Linked DNA regions of Homo sapiens: region 1 is linked to region 2. Evidence: fine-mapped expression QTL. A gene starts in region 2. The other region holds a variant in brackets. All regions are shown on one strand. Distances are from middle to middle. Region 1 holds the start of PYY (peptide YY). Region 2 holds the start of SLC25A39 (solute carrier family 25 member 39).

Region 1 (2,895 bases), 370 kb before region 2:
AGCCCAGGCGCGGTGGCTCACGCCTGTAATCCCAGCACTTTGGGAGGCCGAAGCAGGCAGATCACGAGGTCAGGAGATTGAGACCATCCTGGCCAACACGGTGAAACCCCGTCTCTACCAAAAATACAACAATTAGCTAGGTGTGGTGGTGAGAACCTGTAGTCCCAGCTACTCGGGAGGCTGAGGCAGGAGAATCACTTGGACCCAGGAGGTGGAGGTTGGAGTGAGTCAAGATCGCACCACTGCACTCCAGCCTGGGCGACAAAAGCAAAAACTCCATCTCTAAAACAAAAAACAAAACAAAAAAACCCCTGATCCGCTGCAAGGATGCCCCCAGCCTTCCTGTCGTTTTTCCCCTCTCTGGGTCACAGGTTTTGAAGTCAACCTGATTTCCCCCCTCATCTCCTAGTGCCCTGCTTCAGATTTGGGCAGGTCTTGCTGAACTGGAGTCCCAGAAGAGAGCCCACAGATACAGGAGGCTGTGTCCCAGGAAGGAGACATAGGCCCTTCCTTCTTGAGGCCCCAGGAGGGAGACAGGACACAGAGACATAGAACTCTCAGTGAACAGAGCAGAGGCCCTGAGAGCTGGGCAGTTAGAGAGGGCAGGAAGAGTGCAATTGGGCAATCAAGGCAAGCTTCTTGGAGGAAAGGGGCAGGGAAGGGTGGATGTCAGGGGAGATCAGTCTGCAGGCAGGCTCTGGAATAGGTACAGAGTGGTGAGGGATTCGAGTTGGATTCCAGTTTAAACATCCACAGAGCCTTTAGGCTTCAGTAGCTAGTCCAGGGGAGGGGGGTACATGGAGGGTGTCCCTATGGCCTTGTCACTAAGAAAGAACAGTTCGTGACTTATCCACTGCGTGTGAATTCAGCGAGATTGGGGAGGGAGGTTTCTTAGGGATAGGGCAGCCTCCACACTCCCATTGCTCCTCTACTCAGGGAAAGGGGGACGGTAGAAATGGCCTGCCTCTCCGGCCAGCACACGTACAGCCATCTCACCCCCACACGGCTCTTCCTCCACAGCCCCATTTTGGATTACACTTCACCTCCAGCCACTCCAGCCCTGGGCGCTAGTACTACAGCTCCTGGGGAAACGCCCCGGGGTGTTGGTGCCCGACTCGTCCCCCAGCCGTCTTCGGCTTCACGGGGTGGGGGAGGGACAGCCCTGACCCCATCTGCTCTCCTAGGCTGCCTAGCAGGCTCCTGTCGCCGCTCCCCGCCCCTTCTTCCAGAGTTCCATCCACTCCTGCCCCCACTCGACCAGAGTT[C/T]CTTCCACAGCAGTTCCTGGCCTGGGCGCTGTCCAGCTCCAGGCTGGGTGGTCGAGTCTTCCCTGGGCTCCGAGCAGAGGGAACTCCGCAGCCCGCCCCAGCCTTGTCCTGGGGCGCCTCTGTCCAAGTCGGTTTTCTCTTCCCTGGCCCCCACGCCTCCACCCTCCACTTCTACGGGATGCCACCTCCACGAAGGAGAAAGGAAAGGAAATACAAAGGCATACATTCCGTTTCTGTGGAATTTGCTCTTTATTTTGGGACCAGGGAAGGACCACACACAGCCCTCCAGCCCAGGGGGCGGGGGCACCGAGACGCGGGCGGAGGGCCGCACCCGAACCCTGCCCAGACGCCGCCGTCGGGAGGCAGAATCCGGGTTTCTGGGGTCGGGAGTGCGTATGCAAATGACGTGGGCGTGGTTGGCAGATCTCCCAGGAGGCCTCAGGGGTCCTCACCACAGGTCTGGGCCCTCCGACCTGCGGAAGCGAAGGGGAAGGAATTGGATCTGGGGAGGCGAGCCTGGGAGACGTCGTTAAGTGATGTTGCCAGGGTAGGGCCAGGCCGCGCTCTCGGATGCAGGATGTGTGGTAACGGGCGCTTTTACCGCGACCTGACGGGGCGGTCCTCGCCGTCGGGGAAGAACGTTTTGGAAAGAAGCGTGTCCGGGCCGTCTCTTTTCCCATACCTGGGGGCGGGGAAGGGAAGAGCGTGGTCAGATCTGGCCACGCCCCCAGGTGGAGCGGGGCCGCAGGGTGAGAGCCCCAGGGGTCCCGCTCCGCGCCTGCGCTCACCGCTGCCGGGTGACCAGGTTGAGGTAGTGGCGCAGGGAGGCGTAGTAGCGGTTCAGCTCCTCCGGCGAGGCGTCTTCGCGGGGAGCCTCGGGTTTGATGGGGTAGGCGTCGACCAGCGCCCCTAGGCAGACGAGCAGGGCCAGAAGCACTGTGGTCAAGGCGGGCCACGGCCTGCGCACGAACACCATCTGGGAAGGCGACATTGGGACGTGGGTCATTCCAAGCCTCGACCCTACACGGCGGGAGGCTGCGGCTGCCGTCGGGGCCGCGCTCCGACGCTCTCCCTGGGGCTGGTACCGGACCAAGGCTCAGCCACCGGGCTTGCTGTGTGTTCTTGGGCACTGCACCGTCTCCTGACTCAGTTTCCTCATGTCAGAGGAGCATAAGCCCTGCCTGCCTCCCCACCCCCACCCCCGCTGCTGGCCTCCTTCCCACCTCCGATGGCCCCCTCCAATCCAGTTTCCTACCACTCACCCCCAGCTTCCACCATCCCAGCCTCAGTTTCCCCACAAAACAGCCTGGGTTTCCCCAGGCTTGAGCCCCCAGCCACTCACAGCGATAGCTTGTGAAGCAGACGAGCAGGAGGTGGAAGGCGAGGGAAGTCCCAAGGGCTGCACTGCCGCAGGTCAAGCTGAGGCCTCCTCTGCTCAGCGCTTTCCTTGTGGGGCTTATATCCCCGCCTGGAAAGGGAGGGGGAGTCCCAGGGGGAGGGGGAGCCAGCAGGGGGTGGGCCCTTCTTCCTCCCTCCTTCCACCCTCGCCAGATCGCTGAGCTTATACCCAGCCAGTGCGTGATGTCTCCACCTCGCAGGAGCTGAGGGGGCAGTTGCCATGCTCAGATTC
Region 2 (2,895 bases):
GGGCTGATGCCCGCAGGGTCCTGGTCAGCCATCTTGAAGCTTCAGTCCTGAAAACCAAACCTCAAACAGACCACAACTCCAGGGATGGCAGGAAAGGAGGCTGGGCCACTGTGAGACTTTTGTTTTGAGACGGCGTCTCGCTCTGCGCACTGTTGCCAGGCTGGAGTGCAGTGGCACCATCTTGGCTCACTGCAACATCCACCCCCGTTCAAGCGGTTCTCTTGCTTCAGCCTCCCAAGTAGCTGGGACTACAGGCGCGCACCACCACGCCTAGTTAATTTTTGCATTTTTAGTAGAGACAGGGTTTCACCATGTTGGCCAAGATGATCTCGATCTCCTGACCTCGTGATCCGCCCGCCTCAGCCTCCCAAAGCACTGGGATTACAGGCGTGAGCCACCGCACCCGGCCCACTGTGAGACTTTAACCCAACCCTCATCCACCGCCCTCGAAACATCTGTTGCCTCAACAACCCTGGCAATGACCTCTAAAGCAGGGACTGTCCGCCCCCCTCCGCCGGGGAAAACTAAGGCTCGGGGAGACGAGGTGGCCTGCCCAAGGTCACTCAGGAGTGGTTCCGAAGGAAGCTAGGGTGCCAGACCTATCGCTCGAATGCAGTAGGAGCCAGGGTCCTTCCCTCGTCCACCTCGCACGTGTCCACTGCGCACCTCCTACGTGCAGGCGCGGATTTGGCCCTCGTGGCCCCAAAATCAGAGTACCTGTGCTGCCCCCACAGCCCCCACTCCAGCACCAAGGCCCCGGGCAGGCACCTGAGAGCCCAAGTTACTGGGCGTGGAGGGACGGCCGGGCATCGAGGGTGACGTGTAAACAGATCCGGTGACCAAGAAGGGCCCGTCGCCTCCTCAGGACTGCGGGCTGGGATGCCCGGCCCTCCCCGCCCGGCCGGACGGGCCAGACCCGGGGCCCGGAGAGAAAGAGCAGTCTCTGGGTTCCCGCCCCAAAATGCAGGCCCGGGGCGCAGCCGGGAGAGCGGGAAGTAGGAACGTAGGACCAGGACGTCTCCCCGACCCTCGGCGACACTCCCGGCCCCGAACGGCGGAGAGCCGCCAGGTGAGGGGGACCACGCCAGCTCGACGGCCCCAGCACCTGCCCTGGCTCGCACGGCCGCCCGGAGACCCCCGCTTCCGTCTCCGCCCCCAGCCCCGGCCCAGTGCCGCCTACCTGGCTCTAGGCTGGTGCTCGTGCGGCGCGGCGCCCAGGGTCAGGCGGGCCCATACCGGCTCCGCCGCCTGTGCGCGGTCCGCGCGCGCTCGCAGCGCACCTAGGCCGACGCCGAAAGCAGCCAAGGGGGCCCCGCCCCTACACCGCGCCACGAGGCCCCGCCCGCCGCGGGCCGACCAGCCGCAAGCCCGGAGTGTCCCCGGCTCCGCCCACTCGCGTCTCCGCCCGGACCTGCGACGGTCCCGCCCCCTTGACGGGGCCGCGCGGGCGAGTTCCATGCCTGTCCAGCGCTGAGAGCTGCCGGCCAACTTCGCGGTCTCCACGTCGCGCTTAACGTGGCAGCAGCACGCACTTCCAGCATCTTTTTTTAGACAGCATCTTTTTCAGCCTCGCTCTGTCGCCGAGGCTGGAGGGCAGTGGCGCGATCTAGGCTCACTGCAGCCTTGACCTCCCGGGTTCAAGCGATCCTCCTGCCTCAGCCTCCGGAGTAGCTGGGACCACAGGCGCGCGCCGCCACGCCCGGCTGGTTTGTTACTTTTATTTTTGTCTCCCTATTTTGCCCAGGCTAGTCTGGAACTCCTGGGCTCAAGCGATCCGCCCACCTCGGTCTTCGAAAGTGCTGGGATTCCAGGCGTGAGCCGCCGCGCCGGCCTTAACAGCGCATTTTCACCAGCCCCGCCCCGGCCGCGCGCGGCACTGGAAACCCCAGCGCCTTCTGGACGGCGAGGGTGACGCACTGGCCCTCTTCCTCGGTGTCCTCAGGTGCGTGGCGGCGGCAGTGAGAATGAGTTCTTCGAGATCGCCGGGAGACCACACAATAACGACGAAGTTACTTGCCGGGCTACCCGCCGAGACTTGAAAACTTCGCGGCGACTTCTCTCGCCGGCCTTAGCATCGCCCCCATTTTTCAGGTTACAGGACAGGCCTGCAACTGCAAAACGCTTTGTAAACCACAGGGCCCCGCGCGGGTGTGCGCCACTGGGTTAGCTGAGCTGCAGCCCGGGCCGGGCGGGCTGGGACGTGAGCAAGCCGGGGGAGACGGGAGAGCCATGGGGAGCCAGATCCCACCTTCGCGTGACCTTGGGCAAATCACAACCTCGCCTAAGGCCCGGAATGACTCTGCGCGGAGAGGAAGAGCACTGAGTGCGGGAGGGCATCGACGTTTTGGTGTTGGTTGCTCTCGTATCGTGATTTCTTCTGAGTCTCAAAACTCTTTGCAGTAGGTTATTGTTGAAATAGATTACCACAGGCCGGGCGCGGTGGCTCACGCCTGTAATCCAGCACTTTAGGAGGCCGAGGCGGGCGGATCACTTGAAGTCAGGAGTTCGAGACCAGCCTGGCCAACATGGTGAAACCCCGTCTCTACTAAAAATACAAAAGTAGCCGGGCATGATGGCTGGCGCCTGTAATCCCAGCTACTCGGGAGGCTGAGGCAGGAGAATCGCTTGAACCCGGCCGGCGGAGGTTGCAGTGAGCCGAGATCGCACCACTGCATTCCAGCCTGGGCAACAGAGTAACACTCCGTCTCAAAAAAAAAGGCCGGGCGCAGTGGCTTACGCCTGTAATCCCAGCCTTTTTGGAGGCCGAGGCGGGCGGATCACCAGAGGTCAGGAGTTCGAGAGCAGCCTGACCAACATGGTGAAACCTCGTCTCTACTAAAAATACAAAAAATTAGCCGGGCGTGGTGGCGCATGCCAGTAATCCCAGCCACTCGA

Evidence for each region. PIP is the estimated chance that this variant, and not a neighbour inherited with it, causes the effect.
Region 1: its variant is fine-mapped to the expression of SLC25A39 in amygdala (GTEx, PIP 0.95).

Annotation. Positions count from the first base shown.
Region 1 is chr17:43,951,243-43,954,137 of GRCh38, forward strand. It overlaps PYY (peptide YY), which reads right to left and starts at 2,698. Exons shown (of 4, transcript NM_001394028.1): 1 at 2,608-2,698; 2 at 2,054-2,241; 3 at 1,867-1,947; 4 at 1,491-1,738. The coding sequence starts at 2,241. The coding sequence ends at 1,714. RefSeq lists an enhancer at 1,733-2,236. The variant C/T (reference allele first, on the strand shown) is at 1,266.
Region 2 is chr17:44,323,531-44,326,425 of GRCh38, forward strand. It overlaps SLC25A39 (solute carrier family 25 member 39), which reads right to left and starts at 1,293. Exons shown (of 12, transcript NM_001143780.3): 1 at 1,181-1,293; 2 at 1-47. The coding sequence starts at 32. It overlaps LOC124904009 (a long non-coding RNA gene), which reads left to right and starts at 1,923. Exons shown (of 2, transcript XR_007065768.1): 1 at 1,923-2,091. RefSeq lists silencers at 836-1,055, 1,076-1,505 and enhancers at 1,606-1,795, 1,956-2,035, 2,086-2,145, 2,216-2,895, 2,326-2,375.